Homo sapiens: one gene and its partner. The protein of the gene in region 1 purifies or fractionates together with the protein of each later gene. This does not show direct contact. Each region holds a gene or a part of one and is shown in the gene's direction. Other genes may lie near its edges.

Region 1 (7,000 bases):
CCAAGATTCTCTACTTTTTCACCCACGAACACTGACTGTAGTGTGAAATCACAGCCCAAATATGTTAATTCATTAAATTAGGCATTCATTCCCAGAGTGCAAATTCCTCAGGTCAGAATTTAGGCCCTCCAAGGCCGGGGGTGGTGGCTCATGCCTGTAATCCCAGCACTTTGGGAGGCTGAGGGGGGCAGACTGGTTGAGCCCAGAAGTTCATGACCAGCCTGAGCAACATGGCAAAACCCTGTCTTTACAAAAAATTAAAAAATTAGCCAGGTGTGGTGGCACGCATCTGTAATCCCAGCTACTCAGGAGGCTGAAGTAAGAGAGTCACTTGAGCCCAGGAGATGGAGGGTGAGCCAAGAGTGCACCACTGCGCTCCAGCCTGGGTGACAGAGTGAGACTGTCTCAGAAAAAAAAAGTTAGGCTAATCCCTTCAGATCTGGATTTAATAGTCTTATTTTGCTCCTTCAAGAGTTAACCAACCACATTTCCCAAACACATCACCATCTGTTGCTTCTATGTTTTTGCTCATCTCTTCTAGCCAGAGATCTTCTTCCTCACTTCCCTCTATGAGAACCTCAACACTCCTTCAAAGTCTAGGTCAAATGCCACATCTTCCACGAATCTCACAGAAAAGAAAGAAAAATGGATGTAATATAGAGTTGCACAAAGAAACATCATGAATTTCAAAAGCACATATTGTTAAAAAAAAAACAAAAACAAAACCCAAACCATTGCTATTTTGGCATTTTCTTGTAGGTAGGGATACATATAAGAAAATAGAAATAAATGATATCTTGATCCTATTTTCTTGACTTAAAAAAAAGAAGCAAGGTCATCACCCAAAAACAATAATGGGGAATAAGGTATTAGAGGCTTCAGAGAGGAAAGTTACAAAACAGTAGCGTAGAAGAGAGGGAAGGAGGATGGTCTAAGGAAATGCAGCAGGACAGCACTTGAGGTTAGTGGTCTTGAATCGAGAGTGAGACCAGTCACCATGCTCCTGTTTTTCTTTAGTTACATTCAGCTGTGACAGTCAGGCTGTGAGTAGGTAGAGAATTGGAGTAACCAGAGTTGGAGTTTGGCAGATTGAAGGAGCCAGAAAGTTTAGGGCATGTGCAAAAGAGCAACGATAGTGATCAACTATGGGGTCTAAGTTGGTAAGAAGGAACTGACAATGTTGGGAGGTATGGATGAGGGACAGTGAAAAACAGTAGAATCAATATAGCTGAGGTTCCACGGAAATTGGAGAATTATTGCAGCTGGAGTTACTACATAGAGATAGTGGTCTGAGTGCGGAATACTCAAAATGAAGAGTATGAAGGGTTCCAGTAATAGAAAAGACAAAACCCAGGATGCGGGTGCATGGGAGCAAATGGTGAGGAAGAATGAAGGAAAGTATCACTGCAGGAAGAGAGCTCAAGGGTCTCTGACTCTACCTGAATAACTACTTCAAATTCCAAATACACACAATAGTTACATTTATAATTTCTGACAAGAAAAGAAGAAGAAATTGAGATGTTTCTTAACCTTTCTCAAATGGGGTTCTGTCAAAGAAAATAACTTAAGTAACTATTCTCTCAATTATACCAATGATGAAAAATAGCTAGAACCATTCTACATGAACAGGAGATAAGTCATTTCATTATATGCAATGATTTGTTTGGAAACTCATTCTCTCATGAAACCCTGGGTGGGAAAAGTAGAAAGGTCTCAGAATAAAAGAGGTAGGATTTTTTAAAACCTTTTTCCTAAATGATACATTCATTTCATCTGGATAGCAGTTTTCAACGTGCAAAGTACTTGTACATGCATAGCTCATACAATGCTAACAACGACCAGGCGGATAAGCAGGCAAGATATGACACAAGGAGGCTGGATGCAGTGGCTCACGCCCGTAATCCCAGCACTTTGGGAGCCCAAGGTGGGTGGATCATGAGGTCAGGAGTTCGAGAGCAGCCTGGTCAACATGGTGAAACTCCATCTCTACTAAAAATACAAAAATTAGCCGGGTGTGGTGGAGTGCACCTGTAATCCCAGCTACTGGGGAGGCTGAGGCAGGAGAATTGCTTAAACCCAGGAGGTGGTGGCTGCAGTGAGCCGAGATCGCACCACTGCACTCCAGTCTGGGCAACAGAGCAAGACTCCATCTCAAAAAAAAAAAAAAAAAAAGACACAAGGCAACATACAAGATAAGCAGCCAAGGTATAATTCAGCTATAATTGCAATTCTTATTTTATTGATGAGGCAAGAGGCAGATATGTTAAGTGACAGAAATGAAATATAGGTTTCAGGCTTCTCATCTGGGACATAATTGACCCTTCCCTAGAACTTCAAGTTTCAGCACTGAGTGTTCATTGTGAAGTGTGCCCTTTTGCAATTCTTTTCCACACAATATCCTCCTCCTGCATTCTACTGCACGTGTATTTGATTCTCCACAAGACTTTAAACACCTGGGAGACAAGGACAGTGTGTTTTTAATAATATTTTTGTATCTAAAACTTAAATATATTAATGGAAAAAAGGAAGCTAGGAAGAAAAATGTAAAGACACTTGAACTTTGTAGAATGTAAACACTGTATGTCTTTAGGATTTAAAGTAGTTATTCAAGCAGAGTCGGAGACTAAATAATTGGATTCTGGAAACTGTTTCATGAGGAAAATTTGATGGTGCTGTTAGTTTTGGACAGAAAATATTAAAAGGAAACATGAATACTATTTCTAAATATCTGAAGTTATCACACAAAAGGGAGCATTTCACGTTCTTCTGAAGGGCAGAAAAAGGTATCAGCAAATAGAAGTTGTAGAATCTCCCAGGCAAAAGCTCTCTAACTAAAATAAAGGTCTTTCCTCCCCCAGGCAGTGACCATCATTAAAGGATCAGGTAATTCCAAAGAACACACAGCATTTACAGTGGAGGGATCAGACTGTAGTTGACTGATGTCATGCTATTATCATAGATCTATACCCTAGTAAGCAAGAGAAACTGGGACTCTTAAAAGATGGTTACTTAGTAGAAAGTCTAGTATACCAGACTTTTGACTCAAGTTCAGTGTAATATGTGACTTAAAAAAAAAAAAAATCTCGGCCAGGCGCAGTGGCTCACGCCTGTAATCCCAGCACTTTGAGAGGCTGAGGTGGGTGGATCACCTGAGGTCAGGAGTTAGAGACCAGCCTGGCCAAGATGGAGAAACCCCGTCTCTACTAACAATACAAAAATTAGCCAAGCGTGGTGGCACGCGCCTGTAGTCCCAGATACTTGGGAGGCTGAGGCAGGAGAATCACTTGAACCGGGGAGGTGGAGGCTGCAGTGAGCCAAGCCTGCACCACTACACTCCACCCTGGGTGACAAGGCAAGACTCCATCTCAAAAATAAAAAGAAAAAGAAAAAGAAAAAAGAAAAAAAACTCACTTCATTTGTACTTAAACATTAATTTTGGTTTGAGGCCAGGCGTGGTGGCTCACACCTGTAATCCCAGCACTTTGGGAGGCCGAGGCCAGAGGATCCCTTGAGGTCAGGAGTTTGAGACCAGCTTGGGCAACACAACGAAACCTTGTCTCTACTAAAAAATACAAAAATAAGCTGGGCATAGTGGCATGCACCTGTAGTCCCAGCTACTTGGGAGGCTGAGGCATGAGAATTGCTTGAACCTGGGAGCCTGGGAGGCAGAAGTTGCAGTGAGCCGAGATTGTGCCACTGCACTCCAGCCTGGGTGACAGAGGAGACACTGTCACAAAAAAAGAAAAAAATTTTGGTTTGAGCACTGCCCATTCTTTCTGGATATTCTTTTATATATAGACATAGGTATAATACATTTCATATAACTGAGAATTTATACAAAGCGTATTCTGAGTTTACTCACTTTCTCCACAATGTTTCCTTTTCTCCTTGCAATAGGAAAAAAAAAAAGAAGATGGGTTTTTTAAGTCCAATATATGTTATTTTCTTCTTTTTTGGAGTCAAAGTACATTGCCAATATGAAACTTATCAGTGGGATGAAGACTATGACCAAGAGCCAGATGATGATTACCAAACAGGATTCCCATTTCGTCAAAATGTAGACTACGGAGTTCCTTTTCATCAGTATACTTTAGGCTGTGTCAGTGAATGCTTCTGTCCAACTAACTTTCCATCATCAATGTACTGTGATAATCGCAAACTCAAGACTATCCCAAATATTCCGATGCACATTCAGCAACTCTACCTTCAGTTCAATGAAATTGAGGCTGTGACTGCAAATTCATTCATCAATGCAACTCATCTTAAAGAAATTAACCTCAGCCACAACAAAATTAAATCTCAAAAGATTGATTATGGTGTGTTTGCTAAGCTTCCAAATCTACTACAACTTCATCTAGAGCATAATAATTTAGAAGAATTTCCATTTCCTCTTCCTAAATCTCTGGAAAGACTCCTTCTTGGTTACAATGAAATCTCCAAACTGCAGACAAATGCTATGGATGGGCTAGTAAACTTGACCATGCTTGATCTCTGTTATAATTATCTTCATGATTCTCTGCTAAAAGACAAAATCTTTGCCAAAATGGAAAAACTAATGCAGCTCAACCTCTGCAGTAACAGATTAGAATCAATGCCTCCTGGTTTGCCTTCTTCACTTATGTATCTGTCTTTAGAAAATAATTCAATTTCTTCTATACCCGAAAAATACTTCGACAAACTTCCAAAACTTCATACTCTAAGAATGTCACACAACAAACTACAAGACATCCCATATAATATTTTTAATCTTCCCAACATTGTAGAACTCAGTGTTGGACACAACAAATTGAAGCAAGCATTCTATATTCCAAGAAATTTGGAACACCTATACCTACAAAATAATGAAATAGAAAGTATGTAGACTTTTATTGTGTTTTGAAGAGAGAAAGAATGGAATCCTGATCTTTTAAAGAAAAAAATATTCAATAAGCTATGCTTTAGACATTGCTGAAAATAGTTGTTTTGAAGTTGCTTAAGGGAATGGCAGAAATCTGCCCCAGAGAAATGTGTGCTATTCAGTTTATAGTCCTTTTTATTAAATTTTATTGCCTTAAATATTGAGAAATAGGCTGGGCGTGGTGGCTCATGCCTGTAATCAGAGCACTTTGGGAGGCTAAGGCGGGTGGGGTGGATCACTTGAGGCCAGGAGTTCGAGATCAGCCTGGTCAATATAGTGAAGTCCCATCTCTACCAAAAATAGAAAAATTAGCCAGGCATGGTGGCATGTGCCTGTACTCCCAGCTACTTAAGAGGCCGAGGCATGAGAGTTGCTTGAACCCAGGAATCGGAGGTTGCAGTGAGCTGAGATCATGCCACTGCTTTCTGGCCTGGATGACAGAGCAAAACTCTGTCTTAAAAAAAAAAAAAATAAAATAAATAAATAAATAAATAAATAAATAAATATATATATATACACACATATATAATATATTTATTTATATATAAAAAATATATATTCTCTTTTATATATATAACTGATAATTTATACATATATATATAACTGACAATTTATACAGAGCGTATTCTGAGTTTACTCACTTTCTCCACAATGTTTCCTTTTCTCCTTGCAACAGGAAAAAAAAAAAGAAAAAAAGAAGAAATATATAATTTTATATATATATATTTTTTTATATATATGTATAAATTGTCAGTTTTATATATGTATATATATAAAAGAGAGAAATAATAGAGTACATGAAGAAATATGAGTATCCTAAGTAGTGGGATTGTAGATAATTTTTTTTTGAGATTGTTCTACTAGGAATTTATTAATCAGAAAAGCCAATGAAGCCATATATATTTTGTTAATATAAAACTCATAATTTAATTTTCTTTTTATTATTTGATTAATATAAAAAGGAAACCTAATTCAATTTATAAATATTTTAATTAACAGAATTATATCCCATACAATATAAAATCTAACATAGAATTATGGCTATAACTATGGATTATACTATAATACAAGATTAATTTTTAATTTATTTCTTTCAGAGATGAATCTTACAGTGATGTGTCCTTCTATTGACCCACTACATTACCACCATTTAACATACATTCGTGTGGACCAAAATAAACTAAAAGAACCAATAAGCTCATACATCTTCTTCTGCTTCCCTCATATACACACTATTTATTATGGTGAACAACGAAGCACTAATGGTCAAACAATACAACTAAAGACACAAGTTTTCAGGAGATTTCCAGATGATGATGATGAAAGTGAAGATCACGATGATCCTGACAATGCTCATGAGAGCCCAGAACAAGAAGGAGCAGAAGGGCACTTTGACCTTCATTATTATGAAAATCAAGAATAGCAAGAAACTATATAGGTATACACTTACGACTTCACAAAACCTATACTTAATATAGTAAATCTAAGTAAACATGTATTACTCAAAGTAATATATTTAGAATTATGTATTAGTATAAGATCAGAATTGAATTTAAGTTGTTGGTGACATCTGCATCATTTCATAGGATTAGAACTTACTCAAAATAATGTAAATCTTTAAAAATATAAATTAGAATGACAAGTGGGAATCATAAATTAAACGTTAATGGTTTCTTATGCTCTTTTTAAATATAGAAATATCATGTTAAAGAAAGTGAGTGTATCATTTCTATTAACAGTAATTTTTCTAAAAATGAGGAAGGAAGTAGCATTAGCAGTAAAGACCCACAGGCCATGACCTTTTTGATCACTCTGAGGACAATATTTAAATGACAGGAAGGTATATTAATGTAACAAGCATTCATTTAAGGAATAGACCATTTTCTCTGACCTCTTCTTCAGGAAAGCTTTCACACTGGTATTTGTGATCTCACCATTATGACATCCATCCCCCTAGCTCACCACATAGCACATAGAATGATATTTTTGATTTGTAAGAGGCCATCCAGGTACTAAGGACCCAAGGCATACAGATTCACAAAATTAACTAATCTTTTTGCCTCAGAATACCAAAACAACAAAATTATAAAGCTGTATTTGGAC
Region 2 (10,630 bases), on another chromosome or scaffold:
TTTTTTTTTTTTTCAGCAACAGTATTATGAACATCTTTCCATGTCAATACATGGAGATATGTGTCATAATTTTGAATGGCTGCATAATATTCCATTTTATATACATACCCTAATTTTTAAAATCTATATTCAGAATGATGGACATTTAGGTTGCGTTCATCACTGAAACATCCTCCATTAATTCTTTTTTCTTTTTATTTTTTACTCTAGCCTCCCAATGTGCTGGGATTATAGGCTTGAGCTACCACACCTGATTGGAAACTCATTAATTCTCCTTGTGGATATTTTTACATATGTATTTGAATGTCTCCTTGAAGTAAATCCTTAGAAATGGGATTTCTGGGTTAGAGAGAAAGCTTATTTTAAACAATTCCATATCTTACTGCTTTCCAGAAAAATTGCATTCATTTTCTAGTTTCCCCAATTAGTGCATAAGAATGGCCATTTTCTCATACCTTTCCAAGCACTGGGTTTTGTCCATTTAAAAATTTTTGCCAAGGAAAAAAAATCAGTTTTGTTCTTTTTACGTTTCTTGTTTATTAGTGAGATTATGTATCTTTTCATATTTTTATTGGCCTGACAAATATTTTGGTGTTTTGGCTGTAGCTCATGGTTGACAGCTCAGAGAGAGAAAGATCTGAGGGAAGATGGATGCAAAAGCTCGAAATTGTTTGCTTCAACATAGAGAAGCTCTGGAAAAGGACATCAAGACATCCTACATCATGGATCACATGATTAGTGATGGATTTTTAACAATATCAGAAGAGGAAAAAGTAAGAAATGAGGTAAAGCTCTCTGAAGCAGTCCACACTTCCTTAAAAATTTTTAGAATTTCAGAACTTGTACTGGTCTCCACTACTTTATGTTGCATACATATTCATTGTTGTATACTAAACTACTTAATTTTTTTTAGCCCACTCAACAGCAAAGAGCAGCTATGCTGATTAAAATGATACTTAAAAAAGATAATGATTCCTACGTATCATTCTACAATGCTCTACTACATGAAGGATATAAAGATCTTGCTGCCCTTCTCCATGATGGCATTCCTGTTGTCTCTTCTTCCAGTGGTAAAGATTCAGTTAGTGGAATAACTTCGTATGGTTTGTATCCATTATACCTTCTATCACTTTGCTATCAAAATTGCTTTGGGTTTGTCTTATTGTAGATGTAATCTTTTGAAGAGAGTGTGACCAGTTCACTGAAAACTGCATGTTAAAAAAATTGTAGTGATGTTTTCAATTTAAATATTTTTTATTTGCATCCACATTAACTCTCAACTTTTCTTCTTGCCCAGTGAACTGTACTGCTGAGATAATAATATGTCTACCCTAATTTTTAGAGACAATAAGACAATTTATAGGCCCTTGTTTATTTTCCAGTTCTATGTGTTTATAGAGTTTATAGGAAAAAATAAGAATCTTTAGAAATATATGTTCTTGAAAGGTATTCCATAAATGTTCTTCCTTTTACACTTGCCTTCCCAGTCTTCAATATGAGAGGGAATGAAAAGTCAGGAAATAATTGGGTGAGTAAAGCAGATATAGATAGAAACTTCCATTTTCTTTAGTCATCTTGAAGGATATATGTTTGTCTTTGCTCTCTGTTGTCTGAGAAATCAGAAAATTGAAGTTAATATGCTAGCCACATTTTCTTAACTTCTCTTGGAAATTTTCAGGCTAAGCCTCAGCTTTGCTCTTTGTTTTTTATGGTATTACTTCAGTAATTATTCCAAAGTTCTATTCATTCATGCTTGTTTTGTTTTGGATTTTAGTAAGGACAGTCCTGTGTGAAGGTGGAGTACCACAGAGGCCAGTTGTTTTTGTCACAAGGAAGAAGCTGGTGAATGCAATTCAGCAGAAGCTCTCCAAATTGAAAGGTGAACCAGGATGGGTCACCATACATGGAATGGCAGGCTGTGGGAAGTCTGTATTAGCTGCAGAAGCTGTTAGAGATCATTCCCTTTTAGAAGGTAAGTGTCTTAGTCCATTTCATAGTCTAGTAAGGTAGATAGACATGTAAAAATATTATGATATATCAATACGTGATAAATTGAATGGTAGAAACAAGTATAAGGTACAGAGTTAGAACAAAGGAAGGATATGTTAACTCTCTGAAGGGAGGGGATGGATAGGACAAGCTTCCTGAATGAGATGACATCTTAGCAGGAGTTTGGAGAAAGAATAAAAGTTAGCTAGGCAGTGAAGGTAGGGATGGGAGACTAGGGAAGGTGGGAAAGGTAGTGGGTGGTTACTGGGGTGGGGAAGGGCATACTGGGTAGAAGAGGGTTTAAGAAATGTTGGCAGGTATACCACTGACCTTAGCGATCCTGGTAGGTTCTCAGGGTATTCATCAGGAATAGTTGTATAGCTCCATCAGTTCTAGGCTGCCCCCATTCATCAGTGTGTTCTCATTCATCAGTGTGTTCTCTCTGTATGACACTTCTAGGGGAATTCAAAGACAGTTCCCAACTTCTAGTAGTTAATAATTTTTTTTTTAGTAGGCCAGGCACGGTGGCTCATGCTTGTAATCCCAGCTGAGGCGTGGATCACCTGAGGTCAGGAGTTCAAGACCAGCCTGGGCAACATGGTGAAATCCCGTCTCTACCAAAAATACAAAAAAAATCAGCTGGGTGTGGTGGTGAGCACCTGTAATCCCAGCTACTCGGGAGGCTGAGGCAGGAGAATCACTTGAACCTAGGAGGCGGAGGTTGCAGTGAGCTGAGATCGCACCACTGCACTCCAGCCTGGTCAACAAGAGCAAGACTCCATCTCAAAAAAAAGTTTTTTGTTTTTTTTTTTTTGATATGTATGTATAACATGATCTACGGTTAAGACAGTTTAGACAGAATGATTGGAATAAGTAGTAAGCCTCTAAGAGACTTAGAAATATGGAGGCTAGGGTATATCTATGTGTACACATGGCCTCAGTTTAATTTCATAGCCTTTGTAAGTGGTATAGACTATACTCTTGTCAGAAGTATGCCTGATTCCTAACCCTTGGTTTTTCCCCTCTATCATTACAGAGAAGTTTCCTGAGACTTAGCTCCTTTCAAGTCTCAGAGCCAAGGATTTTTTTAAGCCCCTACTGCAAAGTTGATCACTAAGGATATTTCAGGATAAATTTAGCTTAAGTTCCTTTAGTGTGAAGGAATGAGTTTTCCTTTCAATATTATGAACTTTCTTTGTGTATTTATAATATTCCAATTTATAGGTTTAAAAGAACACTCCCTCTCCCCATTTAAATTGCTCTACATTATTGTGATGAATTTTCAATTCTAGGGATTAAAATTGACTAACAATCTATGGAATTAAATATTCAGGAGTCATATTGTATAAATTGTTATCTTGGAACAGGTTTTAACTACTTTGTTTTGAGAAAATCCTAGAGATACTGGCAACTGTACATGTGAGCTTAATTCATATTCCTCGTACTTTTGTGGGATCTCAAGTTCAGAGGACTGAGTTATTCATATTCCTTAGTTCACGGCTTATTATAGTAGATCTGTACTAGGCTGAGCTTTTCACTGTATTTATTTATTTCCATTTCAAAATTTCCTATTCTTATTTCCTTTCCCCTCTCCATGGACAATCCTAATGTATTTAATGTATGTTCTTTGTAAATGTCTGTGTAAAGTGTGTACTCTTGTAAAATATGTATGTTGTTGGTATGCAGGTATTTTAAATTTGCATAGATGTTATGGTATTATTCTGTTTTTTATCTCCCATGACACAATGTTTTTAAGATTTATCCTTGTTGCTATGTATACATGTTATTTGTTACACCTGATTGCCACCAACCCATTTTACTGCTCATTACCCTAAGTAAATGGATATGTAGATTGTATCCAACTCTCTGCTGCTGCAGCAAAGCTGGGTTGAACTTCTATGTGAGTAAGAATTTCTTGGGTATTTGTAGCTAGGAGCAAAATTAGTAATTATTTATTTATTTTTGTTTTTTTTTAAAGAGACAGAGTGTCACCCTGTTGCCCAGGCTGAGTGCAGTGGCCATATCATAGCTCACTGCAGCCTCAAACTTTTAGGCTCAAGTGATCCTCCCACCTTAGCCTCCTGAGGAGCTGGGTGCACACGCCACCATGCCTGGCTAATTATTTATTTATGAAACAGGGTCTTGCTTTGTCACCCAGGCTGGAGTGCAGTGGCACAATCTTGGCTCCCTGCAACCTCTGCCTTCTGGGCTCAAGTGATCTTCCCACCTCAGCCTCCGGAGTAGCTGGGACCACAGGTGCATGCTGACACACCCAGCTAATTTTTGTATTTTTTGTAGAGTTGGGGTTTTGTCATGTTACCGAGGTTGGTCTCGAACTCCTGAGCTCAAGCAATTCACCCACCTTGGCCTCCCAAAGTGCTGGAATTGCAGGTGTAAGCCACCATGCTTGGTGTGTTTTTAAACATTTTTTTGTAGAGACAGGTTTTTGCTATCTTGTCCAGGCTGGTCTCAAACTCCTGGGCTCAAGTGATGCTCCCGCCTTGGCCTCCCAAAGTGCTGGGGTTACAGATGAAAGTCACCATGTCCAGCCAAAATTACTAAATGATAGGATATACAAATACCAAATTTGATTCCCCTCCAGTCTGTACATTTCCCCCAGATGAGTATGGGGACTCCGATAATTCTACTTGTGCAGTGACGGTTGGTATGATCCAGCTTTGTAATTTTTGCCAGGCAAACTTCTATAAAGTTGTGTCTTTTACTTTGCATTTCTCTGGTAACTCAAGTTTGAACATTTCTTCATAAGCTTGTTGTTAGCCTTTTGGGTTTCTTTTTTTATGGATTTTGTTTATATTATTTGTCTATTTTCCATTGGGGTTTCCAATTTTTTTTTCTTTTTGCTTTTTAGGAGTTTCTTATATATTCTAGACATTAAACTTTGTTGGTTTTAGACTTTTATTTTATTTTATTTTATTTTTTTTGAGACGGAGTTTCGCTCTTGTTGCCCAGGCTGGAGTGCCATGGCGCGATCTTGGCTCACCACAATCTCTGCTTCCCAGGTTCAAGCGATTGTCCTGCCTCAGCCTTCTGAGTAGCTGGGATTACAGGCACCCACCACCACGCCTGGCTAATTTTGTATTTTTAGTAGAGACGGGGTTTCTCCATGTTGGTCAGGCTGGTCTCGAACTCCCGACCTCAGGTGATCCCCCTGCCTCGCCTCCCAAAGTGCTGGTATTACAGGCGTGAGCCACTGTGCTCAGCTGGTTTTAGACTTTTAAATACCTTATTTTAATTTGCCATCTGATTAATTTTTTTCCTGGGTGTTCTCAGTAGACGAGAACTCTGATGTAGTCAAACTAATCAGTTTTTTTTTTTGTCTTCTAACTTGTGTTTCCTGAGTTTTGTTCAAGTAGTCCTATTACAGTCTTATTATTCATATTTAGTTCTTTATTCTCTGGAGTCTGCCTTTGTATGTCCACTAATTCAAGAATAGGTGCTTTCCCAAAGATAAATTTTAATCTCTGGAGTTCACTTCCATTCTCAAATACAGGAACATTGGATTTTTGACATTTAATTGTATTGCAAAACCTTTTCTTTTAAAAGTACAGATAATATAAGAGATCTAAATTTGATTAAAATTGTGGTTCCTATGGAAATGTTTTCTTTGGGTGGTGATTGGCATAAATTAAAGAATATTAAGTTGTTAACTTTTAGCTGGGTGTGGTGGCTCGTGCCTGTAATCCCAGCACTCTGGGAGGCCGAGGTGGACAGATCATTTGAGGTCAGGAGTTTGAGACCAGCCTGGCCAACATGGTGAAACCCCGTCTCTACTAAAAATACAAAAATTTGCTGGGCGTGGTGGCGCATGCCTGTAATCCCAGCTACCCAGGTGGCTGAGGCATAAGAATCGCTTGAACATGGGAGGCAGAGGTTGCAGCGAGCCAAGATTGCACCACTGCTCTCCATCCTGGGTGACAGAGTGAGATGCCGTCTCAAAAAAAAAAAAAAAAAAAAAAAAAAAAAAAAAAAATATATATATATATATATATATATATATATATAGTTTTTAACTATTTATGTCTATACAGTTTTAAGTAACCCAGTTGTCTTTTGAAATTTCAATGCTTTAATTTTTTCTTATTTGTAGGGAAATAGTAAAGAATTGACGTATCTTTAAATACAGTAGTGACATTTTACATTACTGTATTCGTATGTTGGTTTTTAATCATGGATGCTTTCTTCATAGGCTGTGTTCCTATTTGTTTCTGTCCTTTCCAAGATTTCTTTGTGTTATTAGATTATTAATTGCTACCAGGATAAGCCTCCTGTGAAAGTAGTGTGGAGTTTTCCCTGAATAAAGGCAACTTTTCTCTGAATTAGTTTCTCTGAGTGAATTGTAAATACAGCCTCCTCATGCAAAGCTAAATTGCTCCCTCTTGTGCCCATAGTCAAGATGTTTAGATTCTTTCTGAAATGTGGAATTAATGGTTCAGTTTTTAACTAAATGTTATATTGTGATGGTTAGAGATTTACATATCAGATGGTCATTTGGTCTGTTTGCCTTTTTAAAGCTGGTAGTGTTTTCTCTTTTCTTGCATGTATTTAAATGCCCTAAATTTTTAGTTATACATTTAGGGAAAAAGGCCTTTGACCCTAGGTAATAGGTACATAAATTAAAATATGAAAGAATTTACTAGGTAGCCATATCAGGATGCTTTCTTTACCTTTAATCTTGGGATGATTTTTACAAATTTTATTTTATTTTATTTTATTTTGAGACAGAGCCCCATTCTGATGCCCAGGCTGGGGTGCAATGATCTCAGCTCACTGCAACCTCTGCCTCTTGACAGTCCCCCTGCCTCAGCCTCCCAAGTAGCTGGGACTACAGGTGTGTGCCACCACACCCGGCTAATTTTTGTATTTTTAGTAGAGATGGGGTTTCACCATGTTGGCCAGGTTGGTTTCGAACACCTGACCCAAGTGATCCCCTCGCCTCGGCCTCCCAAAGTTCTGGGATTACAGGTGTGAGCTGCTGTGCCTGGCCGATTTTTACAAATTTTAGGTAGTACAAATTTAAAAAAATGGAAACTTAAGGCAACAGATAGTTTATTTGTCTGTTTTTGTTTGTTTAAATATTTTTAAAGTAGTATTTTCTTTTTTTTTTTTTTTTTTTAATTTATTTTTTTATTGATAATTCTTGGGTGTTTCTCACAGAGGGGGATTTGGCAGGGTCATGGGACAATAGTGGAGGGAAGGTCAGCAGATAAACAAGTGAACAAAGGTCTCTGGTTTTCCTAGGCAGAGGACCCTGCGGCCTTCCGCAGTGTTTGTGTCCCTGATTACTTGAGATCAGGGATTGGTGATGACTCTTAACGAGCATGCTGCCTTCAAGCATCTGTTTAACAAAGCACATCTTGCACCGCCCTTAATCCATTTAACCCTGAGTGGACACAGCACATGTTTCAGAGAGCACAGGGTTGGGGGTAAGGTCACAGATCAACAGGATCCCAAGGCAGAAGAATTTTTCTTAGTGCAGAACAAAATGAAAAGTCTCCCATGTCTACTTCTTTCTACACAGACACGGCAACCATCCGATTTCTCAATCTTTTCCCCACCTTTCCCGCCTTTCTATTCCATAAAGCCGCCATTGTCATCCTGGCCCGTTCTCAATGAGCTGTTGGGCACACCTCCCAGACGGGGTGGTGGCCGGGCAGAGGGGCTCCTCACTTCCCAGTAGGGGCGGCCGGGCAGAGGCGCCCCTCACCTCCCGGACGGGGCGGCCGGCCGGGCAGGGGGCTGACCCCCCCACCTCCCTCCCGGACGGGGCGGCTGGCCGGGCAGAGGGGCTCCTCACTTCCCAGTAGGGGCGGCCGTAGTATTTTCATTTAAAAAGAAAAAGAAATAAAAGTTCTCCTTACTTGTTCCTTTTTGCTTTCTCCTAAATTCTTAATCTTTTTATTTTTATTTTTGAGACAGAGTCTCACTTTGTCACCTAGGCTGGAGTGCAGTGGCATGATCCTGGCTCACTGCAGCCTCAACTTTCCAGGCTCAGGTCATCCTCCCACCTCAGCCTCCTGAGTAGCTGGGCCACAGGCGCACAGCACGTTGCCTGGCCAAAATTTTTCTTTTTTTTTTTTTTGAGACAGAGTCTCACTCTGTCGCCCAGGTTGGAGTGCAGTGGCGCGGTCTCGGCTCACTGCAAGCTCGGCCTCCCGGGTTCACACCATTCTCCTGCCCCAGCCTCCCGAGTAGCTGGGATTACAGGCACCTGCCACCACACCCAGCTAATTTTTTGTATTTTTAGTAGAAACGGGGTTTCACCGTGTTAGCCAGGATGGTTTCGATCTCCTGACCTTGTGATCCGCCCACCTCGGCCTCCCAAAGTGCTGGGATTACAGGCATGAGCCACCGCGCCCGGCCTTGCCTGGCTAATTTTTTGTATTTTTTTAGGGACGTGGTTTCACCATGTTGCTCAGGCTGGTCTCGAAATTCTGGGCTCAAGCAGTCTGTCTACCTTGGCCTCCCAAAGTGCTGGGAGCCACCGTGCCAGGCTCTAAATTCTAAATCTTATCCTAGAGATAATCTTGGTTAACAATTCGGAGTAAATTTTTCCAAACTTTATTCTCTGCAATTATAAATATATACACATACAGAACACAGCTTTAAGTTTAAGTGAAGTCTCAAGGACTTGCTGTTTCATAACTGCAAACTTACACTGAAGGAGGCCTGAGGGGACCTCAGGAAACTTTAGGAGTAAGCAGTAGGGCTTGTCTACCTTCTTCTAAGACATTGGCACTGATAATCAAACCAGGCTTCACAGCCCTGTCTCTACCTCAGTTACTGTAGAGTTCTCTGTCTCCAGTTGTTTGTTATATTTTAGACTTTCATGCAGTCACTATTCAGTACATTGCCAAATTCTGATCTAAGTCTTCTTCTGTCATTCCTATGTGTTTCTGCCATACCCTGTAGAACTCCTCTGTGAGCAGGAAACTCTCTTGTATCATCAACTTCTTAGAATATTCGCCGTCTTGCCTTATCTGAAACTGGGCAGTTTCCTGAGTTTACTACCTTCTCCATAACCTTCTTAAGTGACATGGCAACTTTTTTCCTTTATATCCTACATACTTTAGCACCAGGAAATGGGTGGGCGTTGTTCTTGCTCTCTGTTGTCTCATCCAGACCATTAATACTCCCTTCTCCAGCTGAATGCTTTGAGGTTCATGTCTCTAACCTTTCCTATTGATGTAATCACCGTCTCATTCATTGACGATTGGAGTTCGTAGATTATAACCTTCCTCTTATGCTCTTTGTCTGTTAGCACTCTTAGTGATTTTGATACCTGTGTGGATGAGTCATCCAAAACCTTAACCTCTTACCTCCTTAACCTCTTTGTCTCCTGTGAACATTTCTTAACTCTTCCCTGATTACAGGCTAGACCCTGATCTTTGTCATTACTAGAACTACAGCACTTTTGAAATCTTGATGTTGAGCATTCTCTTCTACTCTTTACCCACCTCCACCCATTTTATTCAAGTTTAATGCTATAGACTTACCAAGACTTCTCATCCATTGATTCCAGAATATCCTCTCTATTCATACTATCAGTCCTCTCCTAGACTTCAGCCATCATTGTCCATCATTTTATTGTCCATCATTCAGTTGCTTCTTAGCACATACTCTTGACTCTTTAGTCCTCTCCTTATCTGGAGTGAAAACCGATTTTTTTCTCTATGCTGGGAAGTGGAATAGGTATTTGCTCCTCAAGGCTTCATCCAGACCATTGCTTACGTCCTCTTTTCTGGGACTGATCCTTTCCTTGACCTTGTGCAGGTTCAAAGACTCCATGTCACTTCAAGTTATAAAAAGTCTAATTTTCATAATTAATATGTCAAGTCCTATTCAGTACTCCAAACTTCATTTACATATAAGGTTCAGTTGGGCCTGCCTGAAACTTTGGAAGCCTGCAATGGGATAGTAGGTTAAGGTGGGTTGTTTCCAGCTTTTTCCTGTTGCAAACAATGCTGCAGTGAATATTCTTGTGGATGCAGAATAGTGTAGAAGTTGAACATTGATACTTTAAGTTTGAATCTCAACTCTGCTTCATTAGCTGTGTAACTTTGGGCAAATTACTCAACTTTTCTATTCTTCAGTTTCCTCATTTTCAAAATGAAGATAATAGTGTCTGCTTGATAGTGTGCTATAGGATTAAATGAATGAACATACAGAGAACTCTTAGAATAGTGCCCAATAAATATCTGATGTAAATAGATCTTTGTGCATATATACAAGTATCTCTTTTGGGTGATTAGGTTTTTAAAGTAGTGATTTATATTTGTATTTAATTATTTGTGAATACCAGTAAATAAATTGCCCTTTGGTGTAATTTAATTCATTTATCTTTGAGTCTGTTTTTTGCTTTTTTTGGTATGTTTAAGATCACATAAATCTTTATGATTGATGCTACTGGAATGATCTAATGCTACTGTTTACCATATTTTACACATAGGGACCCCTCTTTTTTATATATGTATATTTATGTGGAGGTGATTAAGTATAGTCTATGAAGACTTAAGATTTTGGCTACTGACAATATGTAAATAAAAATACATATTTCAAGATGTTTTATGGCTCAATTAACAATGATGATGATAACAGTAATAATAATCATGGCCATTCCTAG

Evidence for each region.
Region 2: the proteins of OMD (region 1) and APAF1 purify together in Homo sapiens (affinity purification with mass spectrometry; 2 studies listed by BioGRID and IntAct, with this or other methods). This does not show direct contact.

The regions. Positions count from the first base shown.
Region 1 is NC_000009.12:92,414,472-92,421,471, reverse strand, and holds part of OMD (osteomodulin precursor), read left to right. Parts: intron 1-3,897; 5' UTR 3,898-3,913; coding exon 3,914-4,853; intron 4,854-5,994; coding exon 5,995-6,320; 3' UTR 6,321-7,000.
Region 2 is NC_000012.12:98,647,713-98,658,342, forward strand, and holds part of APAF1 (apoptotic protease-activating factor 1), read left to right. Parts: intron 1-606; 5' UTR 607-647; coding exon 648-785; intron 786-913; coding exon 914-1,103; intron 1,104-1,774; coding exon 1,775-1,972; intron 1,973-10,630. UniProt on the Homo sapiens protein: Oligomeric Apaf-1 mediates the cytochrome c-dependent autocatalytic activation of pro-caspase-9 (Apaf-3), leading to the activation of caspase-3 and apoptosis. This activation requires ATP. Isoform 6 is less effective in inducing apoptosis.